Regions from separate parts of the Homo sapiens genome. Here region 1 is linked to region 2. Evidence: fine-mapped expression QTL. A gene starts in region 2. The other region holds a variant in brackets. All regions are shown on one strand. Distances are between the middles of the regions. Region 1 has its middle 9.0 kb from the start of LINC02029. Region 2 holds the start of LEKR1 (leucine, glutamate and lysine rich 1).

Region 1 (16,028 bases), 240 kb after region 2:
GGTTTGGGGCTGCAAAGTGGGGACAGTGATCCTACACTGATCTCCAGAGTCAACTCAGTCTTCAAGAGTACATTCTAGAAAGACTTTGGGATCTTTACATCCACAGAGCCAAGGCAAGATCCCAAGAGCTCTGGAGAATGCTCTTTCAGAGTCCCAGAGGAGTGGAGAAATGACCATTTGGTCCAGGACACTTGCTGATTTGGGAAGGGGCGGCCTTGCCAGTCTGTGGAGCCAGGGTCTGAGTAGAATCATCACAGAGTACTCTGCCCAGAAAGAGTTACAGTGGCCCCACCACATGCAGAATTTAGAAACTGCCATGCCATACAATACTAGTAAAAATATTAACAGGGTTCCAGTTTTCCCCACGATAAACACTTCAATATTTTTTTCTAAAATATCAAATCATTTCCATTTTTTCTCATTTTCTAGGGCTTTGTTTGCCTAGTCTGCTTCGGGTAACGATGTGCTAGGCATGGCCCCAGGAGGCTCCAGCAGACTTTGTTAACTGGCAAGAGGCTGCTTTTGTGCATCACAGCAGGAAGAAAGTCTACATGTGAAAAGCTTCCTGCTTGGAACATGGGGGTCAAGAGGACTTGCTCCTAAGGAGGAGAATATCTGTCCTGGGCAGGCTCTGTTCTCCCCCACAGGGCTTCTCTGGGTGGGCCCCTCAGCCCCATCTGCAGAGCGGAGGCTGAAGGACCAAGAGCAGGTCATGTGGGTCTGAGGGCACCTGGGATGAACTGTCACCCTGAGAACTATCTGTTGAACGCAGCCTTCTCTTCGGTGACACTTAGTCCCAATCTAAGGGTCTCTGGCATGGAGCGTGTCAACTCAGCATGCAAGCTCTGCTGCACCGGCCATCCCTCTTCCACAGATGCTCTTGCCTGCCTTTCCCTGTACTCAATCCCACCCTCGCTCTGTGTCCATCCCTAAACCCACTGTAGCTGGAAGTCCATTTCTCTCCTTCTATGGGGCACTTACATTCTTCTGACCTTTCACCTGTGTTGCCTACACTTAGCTTTTCCTTTTAACTTTTAATCTGTTTTGGGCTCATATCTAAAGTCTATCATATGCTCCAGAAGGCCAGGGTCATTTTTTTTTCTATTCTCTGTGTGTCCTGCACAGTCCCTAACACATAATAAGTGCTCCTCTGTGTCCCTTTTTCCTCAAAAAGCTTGCTGATAATAGCTCAATTACAGGACACATACATCACCTTCACACATTACCTAGAACAGTGGCCCTTAACCTCTTAAGAGTGACTATATTCTTAAGAATATAGTGAAAGCGACAAACCCCTCCTCAAAAAGATGCACATGGACATATATGGAAAAATTGCTTCATGCAAATTTCAGGATTTTACAGCCCCTCTGCAACCTGTTCAGCCATTGACTCTAAGCTAAGAAACACTGTTTAAACCGGTTCTTTTAACTGCACTGCGAGGTGGCTGCACAGACATTGTGGCCTGTGTTTAACAGGTGGGAAAAACTGAGGGTTGGAGATGGGGAGAGACTCCTCCAGACTGCTCTATATGGTTGATTGGTGTGGCTCCTTGCCCAGTGCCCACATCTCCTTTGATATCTATTTTGCAGATTTGCCCTGAGAAGTGCAAAATCAACACAGAAATATCTCTTCCATCAGTACCTGTGCATCAGGGCAGAAACTGTAATTCTTGTCATTCTTGCCCTTGCTATGATGTTTGGCATCTGATGAAACAGTGCCTCACAAAGTCCAGCTGCAATTCTTGCCAGGGCTGAAGCGAGTTCCTCTCCTGGTGTCAGAGGACAGCTTGCTTATTGTTGTAAATTTTTTATTTTCTCATCAGAGGCTCCCAGCTGTCTCTCCAAATCTGAATACAAGAAGTCAAATGTGAGAGCAGCCAGGTGGAGTTATTAGCATTGCGGCAGACCTTCTCATCTCAGCAGCTGCATCAGTTATTCTCGTGTGTTGGCTTGAGATGCCCTGCACCAAACCATGGGCCCTTTACTCAATCGACCCCATGATTCGGAAGGCCCCGGCATCTCGGCAGGCAAATGACGTGATGAGGAAGGAGTCATGGAAGGGCATTGAGCCAGCACCTTACACAGCAGCTTCAGTTTCCACTGTCAGTGCGTGATATGTGAATGAAAATCCCTGCGTAGTCATTAATGCATAATGCCTCAGTCACTGCCTCAAAAATCAATCTTTTACTGCCTCAACGAGGAAAAAAAACAATCCCACTGCTCTCCCAGGCCCTGTAGTGTGAGTCTATCATGGCCACTTGGGCATCACTTGGGCTCAGCTCCCTGACATGACAGAGTGTAATAGCTTCATAAAAAAGCAAGAGTGGTGGTTTTTTCAAACACCATTTGCTGTGTTTGAACAAATGTGCTTCATCACAGCTCCGCCTGCCTGTGGGCTGCTCTGTAGCTGACAGATAGCCCCAGCCTAAGGAAGCTAAGGTAAAGATACATGAAGTTCACCTTCCTGCACACTCAAAATATTCAAATCTTCTCTAACCACAGCCACAGGGCTCGTGCCAAATAGGTGTGCCCCTTCCTTGAATTTGTATGTGTGAATATTTCAAGCAGTGATGGCCCTGTATACCTTCTAAGGAAAAATATGTCTCTCAAATCAGCTGTTGTTGTTACTTTTTGCCCTTGTGGTTTCCCGGCATGACCCCAGGCACCTGTTAGTAGCTGTTGTGCTCCAAGACCACAACCTCCTAAACAAAGGTATTTATATTTCAAAGGGGATGAGGCCTTATTCAGTTCCTTCCTTCCCCACCTCCTTTAAGAAAATTCCAGCATTTGGGCTGGGCGTGGTAGCTCACTCCGGTAGTCCCAGCACTTTGGGAGGCCGAGATGGGTGGATCTCTTGAGGACAGGAGTTCGAGACCAGCCTGGCCAACATGATGAAACCCCATCTCTACTAAAAACACAAAAATTAACTGGGCATGATGGTACATGCCTGTAGTCCTAGCTACTCAAGAGGCTGAGGCAGGAGAATTGCTTGAACCCAGGAGGCAGAGGTTGTAGTGAGCCAAGATCTTGCCATGCACTCCAGCCTGGGAGACAGAGTGAGACTCCATCTCAAAAAAGAAAAAAAGAAAAGAAAATTCCAGTGTTTGACTAGCGTGCACTGTGATAGCCTGTCAGGGAGAAATATTTGGCCAGAGGTGTAAGTGGCTGCTGTGCACTGTTGTGTTAAAATGACGGTGACTCTAGGAGTCAGGACACTGTGTAGGACATCACTGAGCATCATGTCTGGTACTTTCTCTCAGCCTCCTTTGGGAATCACCTGCATCAGTGGTTCTCAACCAGGGGTAGTTCAGGAGACATTGTCAATGACTGGGGATACTGCCAGTGTTTTTGATATCATAACTTGGGAGGAAGAGGAGGAGGAGGAGTGCTACTGGCATCCATTGGGGAGAGGCCAAGGATGCTGCTCAACATCCAGCAGGGCACAGGACAGCCCCCCACAACCAAGAATTATCCAGCCCAAATGTCAATGGTGCCAACGTTCAGAATCACTGGCTACATTGACTAAGTCACTGCCACTTTCGCACTACAGTCTGTTCCAATAATCTGTGGTAGAGATACACATCTGGATAGGAAAATTGTCATCCTTCTTCAATTCATTTAAATTTCATAAAAATGTATTGGATGTCTAACCTGTGTAAGGGCCATGGGAATGATGACAGAGAGCGTCTCGGCCTTCCAGAAACTTAAGTCCAGTGACAGAGACAGACAAGTGCGTACCAACCATGCAATGCCATATCAGGAGCGGGTGGCGAGTGCTGTCACAGCATACAAGGGGCTGGGAACCTGAGAAGCAGAGATGACCTCCAGCCGGCCCAGAGGGCAGGCAGGCTATGCAAAGTTTTCAGAAAAAAATAGATGTGAGCTGTGGGGGCTGCAGGGATGAGGAAACCTCACACAGGTGAAGCAGGACGGGGAGCTCTGAAGACTCAGGGAAGAATGTGAGCAAAGGCAGAGATGCTGCCTGGTGGGATGGTGGGAAAGGAAGTAAGGGGCTGACTTCTGTGGCTTGCCCTAGGCCGCCTGGTGCACTAGGGTGGAGGAGGCTGACTTTCTTCCTTTTGTTACATTTACTATTTTGGAATAGTGGGCCACATATTTACATTTCAGACTTTTATAGTCTCTTCCTTTGTTTGCTACGGTCACATTAATATTCAGTAGAGAATCTTGCCATTTTTATGCAGTATTTAGTGGAGAAGAGACTTTTCACCTAAAAGTAAATTACAAGTTTCTCCTGCAGAGAGTGGTAGCTCATGCCTGTAATCCCAACACTTTGGGAGGCTGAGGTGAGAGGACTGTTTGAGACCAGGGATTTGGGACCACTGGCAATATAGTGAGACCCCATCTCCACAAAAAATAAAACAATTAGCCTGGTGTGGTGGCGCACGCCTGTTGTCTCAGCTACTCCGGAGGCTAAGGTGGGAGAATCGCCTGAGGTGGGAGCATTGCCTGAGCCCAGGAGGTCGAGGGTGCAGTGAGCCATGATTGTGCCACTGCACTCCAGTCTGGGTGACAGAGCAAGACCCTGTTTCAAAAAAAAAGATTTCTCCTGAGGCCAGAACTAAATAAGCTGCTGTATTTGGTTCAGTCGTTAGTAATTCACATGAATCACAATTTGGTTTTAGAAAAACTCATTTTTAGTGCATATATTTGAAAATATCTCAGAATCATGGATTCCAGAGACGGAAGAGATCTTGAGAAATGCTCAGGTTCAGTTTTGTCTGGTCCAACCAGATAAGCTATTTTCGTCATCATTTCACAGATGAGACAATTAAACATCTGCACATTTTAGACAGAAAATAAGCCTACGTTAAGTGGCAGGATTTTTAAACCTGATGCATTTGCTAAGTGGTGCAGTACTCGAGATTTGGAGGTGAGAGAGTAACTATTGTCCAGACTCAATTGCCCAGAGATCAAGGAGGTAGACTTGGGGGTAGAGGGATACAGGCTTAAAGGGCAGTAGGAAGCCACCCAAGCTCAAGATTTATTGGAGGGCAGATTCTCATCTCTATACTGATTGAGTGACCCCAGCCAGTGAGATCTCCTGGAAGCAGATGTGGGGAACAGTTGTGATTGTTGTAAGTCAGAGGACAAAGTTCATCTGGAGAGAGCATCTGTCCAGGGAATCTCTGGAGACTGGAGCCACTGTAGGAAATTCGGGATTTCAACAGAGAAAAAGCTTCCCTTGGGTGTGGGCAGGCAGGGGATATCCCTGGGGATCTTGACCGTAAGTGACCACCAAGATGTGCTCCAACCCAGACTTCCCTGACTCTGGGCAGCCTGTGGACTCTCCTACCCTGGCTCAGAATCTCCGCCTTGGTTACAGTTCGAACTGAGATGACCTCTTGTTTCCCATCAAAAATGCACCCTTTTCCTCTCAACATCCCCAGTATGGGGCTCACTGCCACATCATTTGCCCCACTCCAGGGCAGGGCCCACCCGGGAAAAAGCCCTGGTTTTCTTTCTGAAGACCACCCTAGTTTATAATAGCAAATAAATATGGATTATTTTTCTCAGTACAAGTTCCTGGGTATGGGACTCAGAGAGTTGCTTTTGTCAGCTCATGAGATGGAGAAGGAAACAGTGTGGGGAAATCCCAAACCCTTGGCTACCCCATTTCCTAAAGTGAACTTTACCCCTGGCATCATTAAGTGACTTTAACAGCCTTGTACTTGCAAAGTGAACTAAAAAGGCAAATGTATAAAAATCAGGTCCTTTTGGGGGGATCACAGAAATGCTTTATGAGATCCTTTTACAGCTGCCAGTAATCATTTACTCACGTTTTGCTCAACACAGGGGAGGTCCTCTTCTGCTCAAAAGAAAGGCAACTTCCTATAAAACAGACTTGCGTAGAATCCTTGGCAGGGAGAAGAAAGCAGTGAGATCACTTCTAGGCATGGCTTCTGGGGACTGCTGATTTCCTTGACGATAATGCCAGTCAGGCCCATAGCAGTGCCTGGCAGCTGCTTCCCTCCCACACCAAAGAAGCCCAGGCCTCCTTAGGTTTACAGGCCCCTGGCCATGGGCTCTCTGTAGGAAGTTGGTTGTGTATTTGTTCTGGAAGTGAGCCCTTGGGGCCAATGCACCAGGCTATCACTGGTAATGTCTTCTTTGGAGCAAATTCAGGTAAACGACTCTGCTACATGTGGCCTTGTTAAAACAGACAGTTCTGCTCAGCACATTTCCCTGGACATTCTAACACTCGTCGTTACACAGGAGTGAGTAACCAAAGGCAAAAGGCATCCATGTTAGCACTTAAGGTCTGTTTCCACTTTGGGTTCCAGTCCCATGGCCTGTGTCCTTTTCCTCAGAAACTGTGGTCTCACGGGGTACCCTCTTCCTCAAGCTGATCCTGGCAAACAGATGTGGTGCCAACTCTGACCATTGCTCCTTGGAGTTGGAGGTACAGATTACTTGTCAGAATCTTGTGATGTCCTGAGTGGTCTGGGATGCCCCTGCTCAGAACTACCATTTCCTGAATGTTGACTCTTGCAAGGTGTTTACATATGTCATCTGACTTAGTCCTCGCAAGGATCCTGTGCTCATTTCACAAGAAAAAGTCTCCCTCTACCCAGGCAGTGTTCCCCCACATCTGGGCCAAGGAGCCTTACCCGAGGGTAAAACAAAGCTGAGGGGCAAGCAACCACACACCCCATGTTTGGTCTCAAGCACTGGCTGTTTCCTTACAAGTTTAATGTTTTTTAGGAAGATGCTACTTGAGGCCAGGAACAGTAGCTCATGCCTGTAATTCCAGCACTTTGGGAGGCCAAGGCAGGCAAATCAGTTGAGGCCAAGAGTTAGAGACCAGCCTGGCCAACATGGCAAAACCTCATCTCTACTAAAAATACAAAAATTAGCCGGGCGTGGTGGTGCACACCTGTAATCCCAGCTACCTGGGCAGCTGAAGCATAAGAATCAGTTGAACCTGGGAGGTGGAGGTTGCGGCGAGCTGAGATCACACCACTGCACTTCAGCCTGGGTGAGAGAGAGAGAGAGAGAGAGAGAAGAGAAGAGAGAAGAGAGAGGAGAGAGAGAGAGAAGAGAGAAGAGAGAGTAGAGAGAGAGAGAGAGATGACAGAGGAAAGAGAAAGAAGAGAGAAGAGACAGGACAGGAGAGAGAGAAGAGAGAGGAGAGAGAGAGAGGAGAGAGAGAGGAGTGAGAGAGACAGGAGTGAGAGAGAGAGGAGAGAGAGAGAAGAGAGAGGAGACAGAGAGAGAGAGGAGTGAGAGAGAGAGGAGAGAGAGAAAGAAAGAAAGAAAAGAAAAGAAAGAAAGGAAAAAAAGAGAGAAGAAGGGAGGGAGGAAGGGAAAGAAAGGAAGAAGGAAGAAAAAGAAAGAAAGAAAGAAAGAAAAGGAGGAGGAGGAAGGAAGGAAGGAGAGAAAGAAAGGAAGAAAGAGAGAGAGAGAAAGAAAAAGAAGGAAAGAAGGAAGGAAGGAAAGAAGGAAGGAAGGAAGGAAAGAAGGAAGGAAGGAGCTACTTGAAACTCTAGACCTCCTGGTGGGAAAGTGACACCAGGAGGTACCTTGGCTGTGGCTGGCCCAGGGTAGCAAACAGCCCAGGAGTGGGCACAGTGGGCTGTAG[A/C]AAACCCCACCAGTTGTGCTATGAATTCTGCTTTTATTTTTCTGAAAGAAACTGAAAATCCTGGGTTTTTGTTTTGGTTTGGGGTTTTTTGTTTTTGTTTTTGAGACAGGGTCTCACTCTCTTACCCAGGCTGGAGTGCAGTGGTGCAATCATGGCTCACTGCAGCCTTGAACTCCTGGGCTCAAACGATCCTCCCACCTCAGCCTCCCAAGTGGCTGGGACTACAGGTGTGCACCACACCTGGCTCAGGGTTTGTTTAATGGGAAAATCTTACAGTTTTAAATGTTGGCAATTTATTTAAAAAACAAACAAAACAAAGCTTGCTTAACACTCTGCAGATGAAACAACATACTTGTGGACTGGTTTGCAATTTCTAGGTTAGGCTTTCCCTCTAGACATAAAAATTCAAACACGGATAGAATAGGATCAAATCTTTCATTCTCTTGTTTTTTCATGAAATATATTTTTTATTACAATGTATTAAAATTCTCAAATTTTAGAACAAAGTTCTAAAAAATATAAATGCTTAAGTGTTTTTGTCACTAAGTTTATTTTTCGTATGAATGATACCGCTTTCTGTTCATTGACAGTTCACATGGTGATTTGAGATCTACATGTTATTTATTGCTCACAAGGCAGCTGTGAGGTGGGTGCTGTGACTTCTGCAGGCATTCATAGAGAAACTGAGGCTAAGAGAAGTTCACTCATGCTCACATGACCACATGTTTGAAAGAGCCTAAAACCCAGCCAGGCGTCCAGACTCTGATAGACCTTTTCATTCAGTAAACCGTGGTTTCTAGTTTCTCCCACTAATACTACTGTATCGATGATTATTCTTTGCTCCAGGCCACATGATTTTTTTTCTGAGATGCCTCTGGTGATTAAATAAAAGAGAAGTCATGGGCCGGGCACGGTGGCTCATGTCTGTAATCCCAGCACTTTGGGAGGCCGAGGCAGGCGGATCACGAGGTCAGGAGATCGAGACCATCCTTGCTAACATGGTGAAACCCTGTCTCTACTAAAAATACAAAAAAAAAAAAAATTAGCCGGGCATGGTGGTGGGTGCCTGTAGTCCCAGCTACTCGGGAGGCTGAGGCAGGAGAATGGCGTGAACCCGGCAGGCCGAGCTTGCAATGAACCAAGATCGCACCACTGCACTCCAGCCTAGGCGACAGAGCGATACTCTGTCTCAAAACAAAACAAAAACAAAAAATAAAAGAGAAGTCATAAAATGTCCTTTAAGCTAGGACTTAATTTTTTTTCTTTTTGTTTTGTTTTGTTTTGTTTTTGTTTTTTGAGGGAGGCCAATAAGGGAAATGTGGATGGTTTTTAACCTGGAGTTCAGGGACCTAAGAGTGAGTCGAAGGGAGCCTGGGAGAGGGGCTGAACCCCTGGTAATTATTTGAAACGTTTTGTAGAGACGTGTATTGGGGTATGTTTTGGAGAAGGAGATCTGTAGCTCTTTCCAGAGTGTGTCTGACTTCCTCAGGGTAGGCAGGATCCATGCAGGCTGGACTCCAGCCCTTGATCTTTATCGACACTGGAACATAACTTCAGCAACATTCCTGAATCTGCAAATTGATTTCTCCTCCGTGGCTTTTTTCTGTTAAAAAGATGTAATGCATGCATGCCACCTAGCATCTGGAATTAGTCACCACCAGTGGCTTTGCTTGAATCCCTTGTTTATTATGCCTCATTACCATGCAACCAGATTGTGTTCCTGCAGGACAGTCCTCTGCAGTTTTCACAACCTCCATCAACCCTCTGACTCTGATTCGTTCCTTCTTAAAAGATGCAAAACCTTTTTCCTATAAGAAACATTGCAAAACGCCTTTTAATAAAATATAAGTTTTCATGAGCCAATAATCAACTCATGCTAACAATTATGTGTCAAGAATATGTAAAAAATGAGAATGACATTGGGGCATTTATTTTGTTACAAAGGCTTTTGGGGTAGTGCAAGAACCTTTCAGGAGCAGGTGGTTTTCACTTAATGGTAGAAACTGCATCTGGGACCTAGAGATTGTCCTTTATAATTCTTTATAGGACACAATATGTGGGGAATTTTTATAATGGGGACATGAGGATCACCAAAGACTACATCAAGGGTAACCACAGAGCAGGTGTGGCATCAGGTGGCCTGGACTTGATATCCAGCCTTGCAGCGGCTCACGGTGTAACTGAGGACAAGGCATTTTACTTTTCCAGGCTCTGAGCTTTTCATCTCTTAGACAAATGCTCAGAAGGGAAAGGCAAGGTAAGAATAGCATCCATTGAGAACCCACCGGGTTGCCAGGTTCCATTCTTGGTGTTACTACATGCACCCTCCTGCTTATGCTCACAATAGGACATTTGGATTCATGCCCAAGGACACACAACTTGTAGGTGGCATGGCCAGAATCCAAAGCTGGCTCTCTGGACTCCAAAATTAAGCTCTTTCCATGACCCAGTTCAGTGTTCCTCAAGCTCTGTCAATAAAGCACCCTCAGCAAGAGAAGAGAATGGCCACATGTATTAGTTTGCCAGAACTGTCGTCACAAAGTACCACAAACTGAGTACCTTAAAACAAGAGAAATTTGTTGTCTCACAGTTCTGGGGGCCAAAAGTCTAAAATTTGGGGCTGTGAGTGAAGGATCTGTTCCAGGCCTCTTACCTACCTGGCGGTTTTCTGGCAATCTTTTGCATTCCTTGTTGGGCAGAAGCATCACCCTGATCTCTGCCTCCATCTTCCCATAGTGTTCTCCCTGTGCACATGGCTGTGTCCAAATTTCCCCTTTTCATAAGGGCACCAGTCATATTGGACTAGAGCCAACACTACTCCAGTGTAACCTCTTCTAAACTTAACTAATTTCAACTGCAATCACCCTATACCCAAATAAGTTCACATTCTGAAGTACTGAGGGATAGGATTAGCACTTCAACATATTCTGGGAGGACACAATTCGACTCATAATTCTACCCACTTCAGGAATCTGAGGGGATCACTTATGGCACCTGTTATAAGCATTGAATATTTTCGATGCATTGAACATTATCTTTAAAATTCATGCAAATTAAGCACTCAACTCCATTATTACACCACCACTTAATATAAAAACAACATTTCCCAAAAGTTTACGAGTAGAATTACTGATCCAGAAAGCTGCTCCATGCTGATCCTTGGGGTTCAAAACCGCATTGTCAAATCCCTGACCTGCATCTTTTCATGTCCTCTGAAGATGCGGAGACACCTTTAAGGAGGCACATTTAACTTAAATGAGTGCGAAGAACGTGGACCTATACAGGGCTGAACAAAAAGCAATGCAAATTAAATGCAAACAGAAAATCTGAACATCCCTGACCAAAATCAGTGACAAAACACACCAGTATGGAAACAACACTTGCAGAGAGCTCTGTTGGAACTGCACGGCTTCATTTCATTCTCCTCTCTTTCGTTTTTAGAGGAAATCAGCATTAGACAAGCACAGTTTGTCCTGCTTCCCCAACAACAATGGCTTTTGAAGAACATGCTTTTGAAGTGCAGGATCGTGGTGTTTGGGGACAAAGATGATGGTTGTGGTAGTAACAGACCTAACACACTGATCAGATTCATATTTTTCTATTACAGTAACTGTGTGTCAAGTAATAGAACTTACCAGCAAAACTAACCATGGCCATACACTGTTCTTTTATTTCCTAAGAAATAACATTTTCAAAAGTGACAAAGGACTCTCTGACAAAGGCCCAGCAATGGATGTGAGAATGACTCAAGGGGAGAAAAGGGCCTCTCCGTGTGGTTAGCTTAATGCCCCACTTGGTTCGTTGACACAAAAACAGGTCCAGCCAATGCATTTCCACATCCTGAGGATCTGCTGCCAGCCCAGCAGAGATGTGCTCTGGCCAGGACCCAGAAGATGGGCAGGGCTCAAAAGACAGAACCAGGCACCCTGACAGCGTAGAAAAAGAGATGGCTTTCTGCTTTCCACTTTCCTTGGTTGAAAACACGGAGACCACAATGTTCCTTTCTTTTTCCTGCCACTCTATTGGGAGAAATACAAACTTTCCAAAGGCATTCACCATCCACTTAGCAGAAACATCTGTCAGCTTTAGCTACAATCAAAGAGAAAACATCTCCAGAGAAGGAATATCCCACAGGGTAAAGCAAGGGACAAACCTAGAGAACACTCGTGACCCATTGCTCTAGCTCAGGGGCAGCAAAGAGGCTGCAGCTCTGTTCAGAAGTAAGCCCTGCTGGTCTCTACGTTCTGGGAGCTTTACTAAACAAACCCAGAATGCAGGAGGTCATTCACCGAGTTAGCAAATGCAGGTGACCAGACCCTTGAAATTAAAAAAAAAGAAAAGAAAAAGCACATGGGTCAGGCGTAGTGGCTCACGCCTGTAATTCCAGCACTTTGGGAGGCTGAGATGGGCAGATCACTTGAGGTTAGGAGTTCGAGACCAGCTTGGCCAACACAGTGAACCCCCATCTCTACTGAAAATACAAAAAAAAAAAAAAAGAAAAAAAGAAAAAAATAGCCAGGCATGGTGGTGTGTGCCTGTAATCCCAGCTACTCGGGAGGCTGAGGCAGGAGAATCTCTTGAATCCAGGAGGCAGAGGTTGCAGTGAGCCGAGATCGCACCACTGTACTCCAGCCTGGGTGACAGAGCGAGACTCCGTCCAAAATAATAAATAAATAAATAGGGCATGTGATGACAGAGTGTGATGACAAAGAAAGGTGGTCTACAAGGGAGGAAGGGCTGGGGGATCTGCAGAACCAGTGCCTGTGCCGGGGAGGCACAGCCCCTTTCAGCCAGAGAGCAGCTCCCCCTCAGGGCAGAAGTGAGTGTGCCCATCTCTAGGGAGATGAGCTCCGTACAGAAGCAGAGCATTTTCATCAGGTTTTCCCACAGCCTGGCGAGAATAGCTCCTGAAATCAACCAACGCCCTCTGTCCTGACTCCACCTCTGCCACAGCTACTGCAGTTCTTTGGTTATCCTGATAACCGAAGGCCACTCTGGAAAGGTGTCCACTGGGAACGACTGGCACTCTGCCTTGGGACACCAACATTCACTGAAGCAGACACCGCAAATTATTTCTAAAGATCGTGCACATCTTTAAGCTCTCACTCTTCTCTTAAATCCCAGCTTTTTCTCTGTCCCACCCTCTCCTGGCCACAAAGGTCATCCCCTTGGCAGCTGAGACAGAAAGGGCCAGACATCTGGGCCAGGGCTGGGGCCCACTGGCCTGGGGCCCTACATGCACTCTGGGCTACATTTCATGCTGCTTGCCCACGTTCCAACTCCAGGTGAGGGCTCTGGGGATACGCATTTTAAAGCAATACTGTAATAGTCTGGTGTGCAACCCAGTGTCTGGTGAGTCCAGTTTTGGTGAATTATTGCTCCCAGTGGCTTACTAATTCACAGGGAAAAGAAAAAAAAATCTAGTTCCCAGATCAGCAAAGTGGAAAAGCAGAGTCCTAAACACAGTATCCTCATGAGGGCAGTGTCCGGGCCCTAGGACAGCAAAGCAGCCTGCTGGTGCCTCTCCCAGCAAGTCATCATGTGCCCGTCAGAGCTTCCAGAAAGCTATTCCTAAAACAAGATGGGATCAAGCCACAGAAAGCAGGTCCAACCTAGTGGTAATGGTGAAAAAAAATAGCCCCTAAGGGGAGAAAAAGGGCAAAGTGGTGAAATGCTGTATAATTTAAATGCATTTGCAAGACTCTCCTCTCCCAACTGTCAGAGCAGAACACCATGCTGCTTTCATTTTTAAAAAAACAAAACAAAAACCTCCAAAGAGAAGAAGAACACCTAGTTATGACTATCATTTCCTTTCCTCCATGGCTTCCCTCTTCCACCTTTATCCCTTAAAGCAGTAGCTCTCAACCAGGGGCTTTGCTCCCCCAGCACACCCTAGCGACTTCTGGCAATGTCTAAAAATGGTGGGGCATGCTACTGGCATCTATGGGTAGAGACCAGAAATGCTGCAAAATGTCCAGCAACGCTCACGACAGCCCCCACGACAGAATTATCCAACCCAAGATGTCAACATGCTGCTGTTGAGAAACCTGGCCTTTAGAAGCAGTCTTCTAATCTTATTTTCTAAGAATAAGAAAATATTATTCTTAGTTTATCCTGCAGCTAAACAAAATGCATAGGAAAAGATTCATCATGAGGAAGGGGGCAATGGTGACTAAGAACTTCACAAAGTCCTGAACCATTCAACCTTCATTCTGAGAGGATGGACGATCAGATTTAGTGATTCACTTCTCTGATTGTAAGTATCATCTTCTGAAGTCCATTAAGTGTTTAGTCATGCCCTGTGTTTTTGTCAAGTGGTAGGCAAAGGGAGTTAAGTGGAACCTCAGTCCCCTAAGAGTTTATCATCTAAGATGGGTAACAATGACTAGGCAGAGATATAAAGGTGAGATGGACAAATAACCAAACTACAGAGTAAGGCCAAACCAATTGCAGAAGCTGGGAGCTGAGCATAGTGTGAGGAATGCGGAGGGCAAGTTATCCAAGTGAGTAGGTGGCATTAAAGAGAAGAACTAGGGACGGCATCACTCTGCACCTCCATTTATCCATTTGCTTTCACTAAAATATGTACCACATGCTTCTGGGCATGCAGAAGTACATTTCACACTCCAAGCACTTGCAATCAAGCCAGTGTGATAAGATTCATACACAAATAAGCAAAACACAAAAATTCCATTCTGAGAGGTATAGCAAGTACATGTCACAGTGCTTAGAGAAAGAACTGATGCCTGCATGTGGTGGAACTGGCATTTGGCTGGGCCTTGGAGTGTGGGGGCTACTGGGGAGCAGAGCCTGCCTGAGAATCTAGGGCAGGGTGGCAGCAGGGGTGTTCGCTGTCCTACAGACAAGAATCTCCAAAAATGGAGTTCTGGCTTAAGGTGTTTGTCCTGGCTTATCTTTTGGCCACTCAACAAAACTTTCTGTGCCTCATTTTCTCTCTTCTTCCCATTTCCAAGCAACAAAACCATGTCCATCTACTCTTATTAAAAATCTCCAAGAGTGGTGTCTCATGCCTGTAATCGTAGCACTTTGGGAGGCCGAGGCTGGAAGATTGCTTGAGGCTAAGAGTTCAAGACCAGCCTGGACAACATAAGGAAACCCTTTTTCCGAACAAATAAAAATAAAAATTATTTTTTTTGTAGGTATGGCAGCACGCGCCCATAGTCCCAGTTGCTCAGGAGCCCAGGAGTTCAAGGCTGCAGTGAACCATGATTGTGCCACTGCACTCCAGCCTGGGCGACAGAGCAAGACTCCAGCTCAAAAAAAAAAAAAAAAAAAAAAAAAAAGAACCACAACATACCAAGTGAAGCCATATGGAGCTTCATGCAAGAAGATCAACATGCACCAGGTTCAAGGGAGATGCTAGCAGTTACAGCTCACAGGCTACCTCAGGTTTCTCTCTTTCATGTGCTTCTGGCCTTACCCAGTAACAGCAACTCTGAACACTATCCAAGCAAAACGTCATATGCTTTGAAGATGCACTAGTATTTCAACAGGCTGAACGTTTTCCAGAACAAAATCTTTACCAAAGCTGCTAACAAGCAGTCAGATAGACTGCCCTGTGAGTGTTCTCCTCCAACAATGAACCAGCAGAAAGGTCAGCAGCCGGAAACAGAAAGAGGAGAAGGGTCCTAAATAAACACAGTTTAATCAACCGTGAAGAAACCTAAAAGTTGCCCGAAAGTGCTTTGTTAATGGGAGAAGCAAGGCCCCTGCCCTCAGAGAAAGGCAAGGAAGGTTGAAGGTCACTTCAGCTGACCAGAGGATGCCATGGCGGCAGCGACATTCCCCGGTGGGAATCTCAATGGAAGACGCAAACGCAGAAGAGAAGGAAGGGAGAGGAGAAGCCAAAGGTGGACCTTTTCCAAGGACCTGGCAAGCAAATGTTCCCTAGAAAGAAGATGAAAATTTAGGTCAATAAGAAGGAAAGACACTGTTTTTAGAACCATTATGACGACTTCAGAGTTGGTTCTCCTTCAGGCTTTTGTCCATCAAGTCTGTCATGTCTGATTCCAGACTCCTCAGGATATTTGAAAAAAACTAATTTATTTGAATTACATCAATGTCCTTTACTTGCATCTAAAAAATCAAAGTCAAGCTATGCTGATATGTGAGAGAGAATTGAGATGAATGAGGGCTGACTCCCAGTCTCTGCCCCTGTAATTACTTTCTTTGTAAGCCTGAATACCCAATCAGATGGACGCCTTCTGAACACATTTTTTCATATTTATGAAATACCTTTGAACAATGAAATCTGGAAACTCTGGCAACATCTGTGTCCAAATATATCCAAGTGTGTTTATGTTTTTAATTGAAGATCAAACAATTTTAGATGAACTCATCTATGGTATCATAGAAACTGCATATTTTTAGGTAATTCTTGAGAGCATTTTGCAAACTATTAAAGTAAC
Region 2 (12,809 bases):
CTGCCAATCCCACGCTGTGAGCCCACACTCCTCAGCCCTTGGGTGGTCGATGGGACTGGGTGCCATGGAGCAGGGAGCGACACTTGTTGGGGAGCCTCCGGCGGCACAGGAGCCCACGGAGGGGGTGGGAGGCTCAGGCATGGCGGGCTTGCAGGTCCCGAGCGCTGCTCCACGGGAAGGCAGCTAAGGCCCAGCGAGAAATCGAGTGCAGCGCCAGTGGGCTGGCACTGCGGGGGGACCCAGTACAACCTCCACAGCCACTGGCCTGGGTGCTAAGCCCCTCATTGCCCGTGGCTGGCAGGGCCGGCTGGCTGCTCCGAGTGCGGGGCCTGCCAAGCCCACGCCCACCCGGAACTCCAGCTGGCCCGCAAGCACGGCGCGCAGCCCCAGTTCCCGCTCGCCCCTCTCCCTCCACACCTCCCTGCAAGCTGAGGGAGCCAGCTCTGGCCTTGGCCAGCCCAGAAAGGGGCTCCCACAGTGCAGCAGTGGGCTGAAGGGTTCCTCAAGTGCCACTAAAGTGGGAGCCCAGGCAGAGGAGGCGCCAAGAGCGAGCAAGGGCTCTGAGGACTGCCAGCACGCTGTCGCCTCTCGCTTGGATAGAGTTCCTACATTTTTATCAGAATTGCAGGCAACATACCTCTTCTACATGCTTTTCATGGTGGGGGAGGAGGAAACAAAGGAGGGAGCATAAAACTACTTTTTGAAGTGAAGAACGACATTTCCCTGCTGGATACATATTTTATGTAAATTCACAACAGTAACAAAAGCACAGACACTGTGTCCTCATAAACCAACACAAAGTTCTGCAGACCATGTGGAAAGCCCTAGGTTAGTCGCTTTAGAGCGTCTCTATTCCAAAAACTGAGAGCATTTCCTTCCCCAGGGATCACTGACAATACGGGGTTGGGAGCGGGGAATAAAGGGTCATAAAAAGAAGTTAACAGCAGCTTAATTTGGCTATTACTGGATAATTTTTAAAAGTCGAAGTAAAAAGTGAAAATTAGCTCAATTAAAAACTAATGGGGTAACCCAAAACTTTATTTAATATGCCCAATGATGGGATTATTTTAAATTGTACTTCAATTCTAGTATGGACAGTAATGGGGTGGGAAGACAGAGGGAGGGCAAGTGAGAAACCTGAAAAGGGAGAGACCAAGACAAAACACCAACATAGGGCACAGGATTCGTGGCTTTTTTTTTTTTCTTAAACCTATTTTGTAACATCTTGTCACAACACTTCCTTTGCACTATCTTCTTTCAGGAATAACACTTTTTGCTGCTACGCTTTAAAAAATGTCATTCATCACAACTTAACTCTTATCCTTTGAAATTCTTACTGGGGTCTACTGCTTTCCAACTTTCTTTTTCTTTGTTTTCTTTTTTTAAGAGACAGGGTCGGGCTCTGTCACCTAGACTGGAGTGCAGTGGCCAGATCATAGACTGCAGCCTCAAATTCCTGGGCTCAAGTGATCCTCTCACCTAGGCCTTTCTGAGTAAAGACTACAGGTGTGTGTCACCACACCATGCTAATTTTTTTTTTTTTTATAGTGACAGAGTCTCACTATATTGCCCAGGCCAGTCTCAAACTCCTGGCTTCAAGAGATCCTCCTGCCTCAGCCTGCCAAAGCTCTGGGATTATAGGCATGAACCACCACGCCCAGCCCAACTTTCTATGATAATGAAAATGTTCAGTATCTATGGTGTATCATACATTACCTACATGACTACTGAGTACTTAAAATATGGCTAATGCAATATAGCAATGGAATTTTTAAACATACTTCATTTTAGTGAAATTAGTTACATGAGGCCACCTTACTGGACAGTGCAGGTCTAAGGGAAATTTACAGTGGAAAGGAAATTGGTCTCAAAGGCAATATGCAGACAAATAAACACAGATGAAATTAAACCAAGGAGTGAACTGCAGCCTTTGAGCTGGATTTTCTCCCATCCTTAAAGTGTTGCCTTTCCTTATCCTATAAACAAAGTACTCAATAAAGAAAACTAGCCTCAGAACAGAGTGATCTTGCATTAGGTGTGCAAATTCCTGTCCCAGATAGGTACCAGTTTTGGTGCCCTGTATCTAAACTTCCATTATCACAAAATGAGAGCAGTCCTACCCTCACTATCTCTCAGATAAATATGACGAGGATGAATAGCTCTGAAAGTTATTTGGGCTTCTCATAAGCATGTTATAGTTGACCACTTGGTTGACTGTCCTCTAGGCCTCTTAATCCTTTCTTCTTTGAGGGAGTGGAAACAGAAAATCAAGGGTAGGCATTGGGGCAAAAATATCAGTCAGGTTAAATGTACAAGATACATCTACTAGACTTTTTTTTTTTTTTTTTTTTTTGAGACTGAGTCTTGGTCTGTCGCCCAGGCTGGAGTGCAGTGGCATTATCTCGGCTCAGGGTAAGCTCTGCCTCCCAGGTTCACGCCATTCTCCTGCCTCAGCCTCCCGAGTAGCCCAAGTAGCTGGGACTACAGGCGCCCGCCACCACGCCCGGCTACTTTTTTGTATTTTTAGTAGAGACGGGGTTTCACCGTGTTAGCCAGGATGATCTCGATCTCCTGACCTTGTGATCTGCCCGCCTTGGCCTCCCAAAGTGCTGGAATTACAGGCCCGAGCCACCGCGCCCAGCCACATCTACTAGACTTTTTAGTGCCAAGGAACAAGGCACTAGTGTTCAGTACTTCCTGGTGTCATTAATTAGTAGTTATCAATAAGCAGTTTGGTGTACCGATACTGCTCTGCGTCATTTAATCACTTCTCTAAATCTATAGGTTCAATTAATTTTCTTTGTATTTACTTAATCTTATTTTATTCAATAGCAAACCAGTCTCTTTGCCTGCTACAGAGCCATCGATGTTTTCTTTGGTTCTTGGAAGAACTGTACTTCGACCTTATATAATCCTCAGAAAGGCAAGATCTGGACTACGAATGAGTCACCTGCTAATTACACCAATGGCTGCTCCTGCCTTGACCAGTCACAGAGTATCACCCTATCTCGGTATGCTGCTCTGCTTGTCGCGTAGTAGGTCTATAAATACTTGTTTTATGAATGAATGTATGAACAAAGGGAAGTTAGTCACGTGTAAGGGTGGGTAGCCTGCGATAAATAAAGTGTAGACTAGGAGGTCTCAAAATACTTTTTGAACTAAGCCCTTAATCTTCACTACTTTGGACTAGAATGGAAATGTCACCAACGCCTTCCCAATTAATTTGTCCTGGCTGTAATGACTGAAACCAGAACTTCCCTTTACACCCATGACCTCTACAGGCATCTCTTTTTCCTCTGCTCAAGAACAGTAACTGCTCACTGCTGTGTCTACCACATAGGCCCCAGAGCAAGGGGTGATAGGTAGGGCTATAGGCTCCCGACTCCCGACTCCCGGCAGTGCCTCTCTCCAACCCCCCACGAGGCTGGGACAGCTCCCTCCATCTCAGCAGTCGCTACCAAGCACCCGACCCACTCTCGCCCACCTCATCCCTCGATCCCCTTCCCTCCCTCTCACAGCATTCCGCGTAAGACTAGCCCAGCCTTCCGAGCCCCACCACCAGTTTTCCCACTTCCGCCCGGCGCGTGAGACCCTGGGCGGTGCAGGGGAGCGTTGACGACAGACGTGGGCCGTGACGTCGCCGCGCCCTGACGTCCAGCCGACTGGCGGCGCGGTCGCCCGGGAGACCGGGAAAGCCGTTTCACACCCGTCCTAGTCGAAGTCGAGGTGAGGGACGATGGCTTTCCTCAGCCTGGGATGACCCGGTCCTCCAAATGCAGTTCCGGAGTGGAGGCGTGCTCGCACCCGGGGAGAGAGCCAGAAAGCTGAGCCGCGGCGCCCCAGCGAGAGCACGAGGCCCCGGGTCTGGACTCCGCCACCACGCTCCTCTGCGGCCCCTTCCTGGTGTCTGCCAGCCCGCGGGGCCCAGGCGCGGTCCGCCTTCCTCCCAGCCCCGGGGAACGCGCGGCTCTGCTTCCTCACCCCCGCACCCTCCTCCTCCTCCTCTTCCGGCCACTGCAGGTCCAGGGGGAACGGGGTTAGAAAGGGACAGATTTGAAAGCCATTCCAGCAGTTTTGTCTGGCCTTGCGGTTGGTTTCTGTGTGGAAGAGCCTGCCGCTTCAGGAAAGTCTTAGGATGTGAACTCCCGCCTTCACCTGCCCCTGACCTGCTCGTTGTGGGTGATTCACGCCATGGGAATGGTTCTTTACGTAAGGGCTTGAAAGCTGAACGTGAGTTAATGGCCTGACGTGACACTAGTGTGAGAAACGGAATTGGAAACGAACAAGGACGTGTCTGCATTTTAAAAAATGTCTTTTCGGTGATCTTGTTAGAGAGGAGGTTCACAAACACCCACGTAGCTGCAGCCACTTATCACTGCACCTCTTGCCAAAGTGCGGTCCACATACGTGCAATGAGAAAGGATTAAAGGGACTTGTTTGATAACACACGCAAAACTATGTAAGACTAAATTTAAAAAATTACAGATTTTCCCTGTTGCCAAAAGGGAAAGACCCTTCTTTTTTCTTGAGAAACTTAGTATTTGTGAATGCTTCCTCTATTTAATATGTATGCAAATGTTTTTAAAGACCTAGGAATGCTTTTCTTGAGGACCTGGAAGCCATTTCTTTAAAATGTAAACATCAAGGAAGATAGGGCCCCAGTCTCCTTGTCACTTTGGGAGTTTAACCTAGGTGCGTTATTCCTAATTGTAAACACCTGTTTCGTTATGGAGCTGTGCATTACTTAGGAGGAAAGCCGTTAGCTAACACAGGTGGTTACCCCAATTACCAGATGAATTAAAGAGGAAATATAAAAGAATGTATAGAACACTATGTTAAGCCCTCTTACATGAGGACACGTTACCAGTTTCCTTGAGAATGTGTAATGGATTGTGTCTCCTTGGCTGTATAAAAGAGGGATTTCCTTCTCTCTTTGTAACCTCATTAGCAGATTAGCCGTGATGTGCATCAAAGTCTAGTTGAATGCCTAATAAAATTGTTGTCTTTCTGCATTGTGGAGCATTTTCTGGGTTGGCAGGACTTTTAATTTTTAGTTTCCCCCCGATAATCAGAACCTGCCAATTCCTCCCCTTCTTATGCTAAGGCCATAAAGTTGGAATAGATTCACAGACAATGAAGGCACTACACAAAAACTGTTCTACTGGTGCTTTGTTTATACTGTCATTTAGATCCGTGCTCTCAGATAACTTTATGGGTGAAATTTTAAAAGGATGTTTAGATGGTAATTTTTTGGAAAATTCTCCCAATAGAGTTGAAGTTACTATTTCATTTTACTGATGGCAAATCCACCATTAAATGACAGAAATGAGAATAATGAGCCTTCTGGGCTCTTGCCACATGATTATGACAATCTGCCAAACATCAGATTATGTTTGGGCTTATGTTGACATGGTTAATGGTACCTCCATTGCAGACCTCAGTTAACTTTACCACACATGTCATATTATGTTTTATGTGGGAAGACATAAAGCTCATTAGTTTTTGGTTTTAAACAGCAACTCACTGAAATGAGTCTTTGTGCTAACACAGGGAACAAGGAATCTTCTCTTCCACTAGTGGTTGCACCATTTACAAAGATAATGCCACTATAGGACTTTTTGACAACTACGGTTTCCCTGCTACCTTGCTGTATGGCCGGGGTTGCTCTCTCTGATAGAGTACTTTGCTTCTCCAGTCTCTTGTCAAAATCCTGCCCTGATTGAATACAAGCAACCTCAGGAAGCCTTCACTAACTCCCACCTCTCATCTGAAACATAAGATCTTTTCCTTTCTTGAACTCTTAGACTGCTCTTGTCTATGCCTTCTTCCCTGCTATGGAATTGTGCCTGTATCATCTGACTCTGCTGCCACTGCCCTCGCCCTTCTCCTGACTTCTTAGATATGTATAAACAGCCCTTACTCGTGAGGGAAGGATTTAAAAAAAAAAACAAAAAACCCAAAGTGCTCCTCCATTTATCCTCTGGTTTTATGAAAGTAGTGACTGACCTTTATATTGAATGGCTTTTATTAGAAAAAGAAAATCTGTTAAAAGTAAAATATCTGCATAAAATTATATAAATGTCCATCTTAGATAAAATTGGCACTTGGCTTCTTATTTTTTGATCACTCTTCTGTTCAGTGTTTGCATATCATATTTAATATGGTATCTCTAAATGCTCTTTTTCTGTATTTCATCATTTAATCCAGCATTCATGCCACAATTGCTTTTTTCATCTGCTAAAATACTATATTTTCATACTTTTTCTAGCAGCATTTCAGAAAAATATTTGATTTTTAAAATACACTGAAATGTGTATTTAAAATTTTAGTCATTATGTATTTGAAAAACAATTAGTAGTAAATCACAACAGAAATTATTAGACTATAAAGTTCTAACAAAAGAGAAAATATTCTTTCTAACTTAGCAGTCTCTATAGTTCTCTCCTGTTCTATTGGCCCAATAACTAACGGAGAAAACCCTAACTGTACCTTCTAACATTGAGCTGATGAAATAAGCATCTGTTGAAACAGTTATCACCATTCATCCCCAAATACTTCTAGGAGTTTATAAAGCATCTTAATTTGAATGTTCTCTACATTATTTCTGTTCTGACTGTTGCCATCAATGTTCTTAGATTTCCTTTGGCTTCAAAGCTCTCTCACCATATTTTGGGAAGTTATGGATCATCACATTCCCATGCATGCGTTGCCTGAAGAAATCCAAAAGGTATGATATATTGTGTTGCTACAGCCTAACAGTGGGAACATGTAGCAGTTACATAATTCTAAAACCTAGAGGAGTGAATTCATTAATTTTGGTCATAGGATCTGAATGAATTGGTGGAGTGGGAGAGGGAATAATTATTATCATAATGAGCAGAATTGTAGAATTCAATTCAGTATGAAGAATTTTGCTGCTATGGAAGAAGACATATATCTAATTCCAGTACAGTATTTGACCAGGTGGTTGTGGAGCCCTAGTGAAAAGCAGGCATCAGAAACGTCCATGTGTGTTTTAATGGGGCTGGATTTCTAAGCCTCTATTATGGTTTGACCAACATTAATTCTCAGTACTTACTGTGTGCCAAGCACTGTTTTAAGCCCCTTTTATGCAGATGACCCTTGAACAACATGGAACTAAATTGTGTAGGTCCACTTATATGTGGGTTTTTAAAATAAATATATTGGAAAATGTTTTGAAGATTTGGAATGGTTTGAAAAAACTCACAGGCGAACCAAGTAGCCTAGAAATATTGAAAAAATTAAGAAAAAGGCATGTCATGAATGCATAAAATGTATGTAGACACTAGTCTATTTTGTCATTTACTACCATAAAATATGCACAAATCTATTATAAAAAGGTAAAATTTATCAAAACTTATGCACACAGACACTTAAGAAACTACGTGGTGCTATTTGCAGTCAAGAGATGTAAAAAAACATAACGAAGAAGTATTAAATTGTAACTACGTAAAATTAACTGTAATATATACTATACAAATGTAATAATTTTGTAGCTACCTCCTGTTGCTTTTGCAGTGAGCTCAGGCATTGTGATTATCTCCTTAAAACACTGTGTGATAATCATGGCCATGTGAGCAGTTCTTCCCTTCAGGAAAAAGTGATCTTGAAGTTCTTGTGTATTTTTCATCATGTTTAGTGCAATTTCATAAGCTTTGGATAACAACAAAGGACACATTTAGCATGCCACTACCTGATGCTGGAAGTACTTTCAAGAAGCAGAGAAAAGTCATGACATTACAAAGAAAAAGTTGAATTGCTTGATGTGTACTGTAGAATGTGGTGTGCAGCTGTGGTTGCCCACTATTTCAAGATAAATGAATCCAGTGTAAGGACCATTAGATATGTATATATAAAGGAAATTTATGATGTTGTAGCTACAGCTATGCCAACAGGTGCAAAAACCATGTACTTTTTGCAAAATCTCTTATAATGAAAGCATAGTTTTTATGTGGGTGCAGAATTGTTATAAGAAAGGCATACCTGTAGACTCTAATATGATTCAAGAAAAAACAAAGTCATTCCACAGAGTGAGCAGAGAGTGGTGAAAAGTCTCGGAGAGAAAAAAAAATCATTATATGGCAACTTAAAAGGTGAAAGATCTAAAGCTGGATAATTTAATGCCAGCAAAGGATGGTTTGGTAATTTTTGAAAGAGGTTTGGCATAAAAAAGAAAAAGTCAAGATAACAGGGGAAACATCTTTTGCTGACCAAGATGCAGCAGACAAGTTCCCAGATGTCATTAAGAAAATCATTAAGAAGAAAGGGGGTTTTTGGTTTCTTTTTTATTGTTTTTGTATTTGTTTGTTTTGTTTTTTTGCAGTAAAGAAAGTTTAATTGATATGAGGCCACTGTGGCATGTGGCAGATGGAGTTATTACTCAAATCAATCTCCGAAAATTTGCAGGGTAGGGATTTTCAAGGATAGTTTGGCAGGCGGTGGGGCTAGGGTATGGGAGCTGCTGATTGATTGGGGATGCAGTCATAGGGGTGTAGAAAATGGTCCATGTGTGAAGACGGAGAGTCCAAGTGGGGCATCAGTCATTAGAAATACAAAAGCCTGAAAAAACATCTCAAAAGGCCAATTGTAGGTTCTACAATAGTGATGTTAATTACAGGAATAATTAGGGAAGTTGCAAATCCATTGGAATAATGGCTCCTAGTCATTTACACCTACATATTAGCAGAATGCAGACCCCTCTAATTCTCTTAACCTTTTGGCTTTTATTAGTTTTACAAAGATGGCTTAGTTTAAGGGATATTATTTAAACTATAAAGTTCTCCCAAAGTTAGATTGGCCCATACCCAGAAATTGTGTATTAGTTTGTTCTCATGCTGTTAATAAAGACATACCTGAGACTGGGTAATTTATAAAGGAAAGAGGTTTAATTGGCTCACAGTTCCACATGGCTGGGGAGGCCTCACAATCATGGCTGAAGAACAAGGGATGTCTTACATGATGGCAGGCAACACAGAACTTGTGCAGGGGCGCTCCTCTTTATAAAACCATCAGATCTTGTGAGACTTATTCACTATCATGAGAAGAGCATGATAAAGGTTCACCCTCATGATTCAATTATCTCCCACCAGGTCCCCCTCACGATGTGGGAATTGTGAGAGCTACAATTCAAGATGAGATTTGGGTGGGGGCACAGCCAAACCATATCAAATGACCAAGGGCAGTTTGGAGGTTAAAGGCAAGACTGAATTTGGTTAGGTCAGAATTTTCTCACTGTTACAATTTTTGCAAAGACAGTTTTAATCCCCCTCCTTTGGGTTTCATCATACCTTATTTTTAATCTGTGTGTTATGGAAATGGAAAAAGGCCTACAGCCACTGTAACTTCTTCCTGCTCACAGGGGCAGATTTGGAGTGGGAGTTGCCCTCAGGGTAAGAGGAGTGAAACTGTCTTGTAATTGTTGGTATGTATTCATGTGTGCCAGGTTGAGATCCCAAGGTCTGCATAAGAAAACATTGGTGCTCTTATCCACAGCTTTCACACAGCACTTAAGTGAACAGGTGGACTATAAGACAAATAATGAGCCCCAACATAAGGAGAGAAAGTCCTCACTTCAGGAATCCCTGTAGAACTGACCTGAAGCCTTAAGGGATACAGGTGAATGACCCCAAGAATCAATCAGATATGGGGTCATTAGCAGAGACTCAAACATAGTGGATAAGGCTGGAATCTAATAACAGTTGTACTATAGTTTTTTTCTGAAACAATTTTTCTCTCTCCAGTTCCCCATTTCTACCAAACACAAATCATAGTAGGACCAATTTATTTGCAAAATAAGTTCCAGTCCCATTATATTTGGCCTGGTTATTTGCATAAAATGCAGCAAGAATAGTTATTTGCCAAATAGGTTCTTTTTCTAAAAATAATTGGCTTTGCTGGAATTTATTTCATAAGGAATCTCAGATTAGACCTTTTAAAAGTCTCTAGCCCAGCCAAGGATTCATCTGTGCCTGCACATACCTGTATGAATTGGGTGAATTTCTCTCTTCTTGAGGTCCCACAATAACTTGGGATTCCTGGGTCTGTCAGAAAGTGACATTCTTTATTTACTACGGGTTAGGAGCCCTGTAAAGGACAAGGTATGAGACCAGTATTTCCAAGGGGCTGTTATCAGCTCTGTAAGTCAACCTCAGTTACTCAAAGCAGCCTGAAACCATGCCATTTCCAGTCAAAGCCTTGGTAAAATAATCAGTGTCTCCAGTTGTGTCCTGTTGCAAAAAACAAAGCAAAACAAAAAACATTCTTATTGAACTTATGCAAAAAACTATATTGCCATATGCTAAGAAGACTCATAATTAGTTTCAAAATTCTGGAGAAATCACGTAGAGAGAAAGAAATATGCTCCAAAGTTTGCAGATAGAAATATGCTTCATTCAATTGTTAAAAGCTATAAACAGCTCAAAAGGAAAGTTGTTATGTGTTTTGACCCTGAAAAACAAAAAGGATCAGAAACATTTCAAACAAATAGTCATAGAAAGATTATTTCATTATTCTCTTAGTTCAGTCCATACAGTTAATTCCTGTTCTGTTTGATATTCATGAACACTTCAGCTCTTCCTGAGAGTCCTAGAAGTTTCTCCCTCTATATTAATGGCACAATCTTTAAAGATATCAGAAATCTGCATTCAAGAGCACCTGTTAGAGTTCCATAGCTGATTATAAAATCACCTTTTGAAAAGGATCAAAGTAAAAATAACTGTGGATGACAAGAGGCTTAAACAGCTATGGTTTAAGACTCAATTAACAAGGAAATTTGGTTATTTTTGTGGCATACAATTTAATATAACAATTATTATTACTGATAACATACACTAAGTCATATTGAAATTATAGGAATCTTGCACAATTCTGGAACACATACCAATAACACTTTCATATAAATACAGCCCAAAGAAAGCCAAATACCAATTCATACTTGACAGTGCTCACTCTATGATGTCAACATGCCAAATAAGCCAGATGTCTCTTTTGGACTTCAGGGGACCTAATATTGAAAAAATTAATGAAATCAAAAGGACTGAATTTAGAACTTGAAATTTTGATTTTGGAAGGTTTGTCAAATATCAAAGGTTTAGAATACTTACTGTTATAAAATAGTATCATTGGTTATTCATTTAGCAGAAGTGATAACTCAAAAATTTCAAAAGGCAAAAACCTAAACAGCATACCCAATAAAGGTAGCATGTGGCTACCTGAATCTCTCTTTCCCCTTTTTTCCTTTTTTTTTTTTTGCAGTTTACTTAAAAGGCAAAAACATTTCATTGTGGCTCAGTATTACAAAAAAACTTTGTTCAAAAGAGGAAAACCAAATTTTACCTTTTTATTAATGTACTATTAATGTTAGGCCCAATTTTTTAATAAAACCTTATAAACAAATCTATACAGTCTTAATCAGTTTGACCATAAGGTAAGATTTTCCTAAACATCCCCCCATAACTTTTTATAATTTATTACAGGGCAGACCCCCATAACTTTTTATAATTTATTAAAGAGCAGATCAATGTTCTAAGAAAACCATTATTCTGACACATGGGTCCAGATTCTGGCCTTGTAACAGTGTGCTTTTTATTTTAATGTTTTAATTTATAGAAAAACTAAATAATCCCGTTCAACTTTTGGCTACATTGCTCACACCCACAGAGCTTCCTTTACAAGATCAATGTATTATAAATCTTTTACAACTTGCTTAAACCTTCAGTATTGTCATATCTTTTTGGGACAATCCTCAAAAATCTCCAAACTCAACGTGATTACTTTCCTTTGAACAAAAGCCATATTTCCAAGACAAAAACACATTCTACTTCCTTTATATAACTTGTATATAAACTTTCTCTAGTAGTCTCAATGTTAATATGTTAACTCTTAGTCACTTTTATTTCTGGTTAGGAACCTGGTAAGTAAGTAATTTTAACCATGTATCAGATTGCAGAGCCTAGGACAAGAACAGAGCTTTAGACAGTGTCTGACTCTTCCTAGCCTAGTCAGAGGACAGGGCTAACTCCATATGTCCCCAGATCTTACCTAAAATCTAATGACTGAAGAATAGACAAGTCAATTTTCAAAAATATCATAGAAGTAGTTTATAACCTTAAAACGTATAGCAAAGACAGAATTCAGTCTGCCTACTGTAGACCAAATGTCTAAATTTTGAAGATGTTTTTATTTTACCAATAATCTTTAAAACTATACTTAACAAAGATTTCTAAAGTCATCTACACTAAAAGGCATTAAATTTTCTATTTTTCTGACAAAATATTTTATTTTAGGGCTCATTCTTCCCTAAACCAGTTAATTAGAGTTCTTTATGTAAACATCCCACACACAACACATATAATTACATGGAAGGAAATGGATCTGGTAGTTGTAAGATTTTTTTGTTTGCCAGTTTTTAAGTTTCTATTTCCTATTTTAGACTATCAGTTTCTTGATTACCTATTCCCTGCCCTAAACAATTGTCAGCTAGGCAACTCTAAATTTGCATTTCTAAAGGGACAGCTCCTAGGTGAAACAGGATAGAGAACTTATATTTTAAAAGCACAGAGCTGAGACATTAAGCCAAAACATTGTATGATAATAGTTTCTAATATACACAGGCAGGCACCCTTACCAATGGGGGTTTTCTTAAATATGTAAATTTCTAAATTGGATTTGTGGCTTCAGGGTGGAGCCCTTCAAGGAACAGGGCCAAGAAAGCGTGCAGCTTCCAGGGCCTGACAGGCAGAGCTGTAAGATAGAACAGATCCCCAAAAATCAAGGGCTCCGTTTTTACG

Evidence for each region.
Region 1: its variant is fine-mapped to the expression of LEKR1 in hippocampus (GTEx, PIP above 0.99).

What each region holds. Positions count from the first base shown.
Region 1 is chr3:157,064,797-157,080,824 of GRCh38, forward strand. No RefSeq gene overlaps it. Among named protein-coding and RNA genes, the nearest start is that of LINC02029, 9.0 kb to the right of the region's middle. The variant A/C (reference allele first, on the strand shown) is at 7,600.
Region 2 is chr3:156,822,651-156,835,459 of GRCh38, forward strand. It overlaps LEKR1 (leucine, glutamate and lysine rich 1), which reads left to right and starts at 3,703. Exons shown (of 13, transcript NM_001004316.3): 1 at 3,703-3,726; 2 at 6,636-6,727. The coding sequence starts at 6,680. RefSeq lists an enhancer at 4,176-4,235 and a silencer at 4,550-4,844.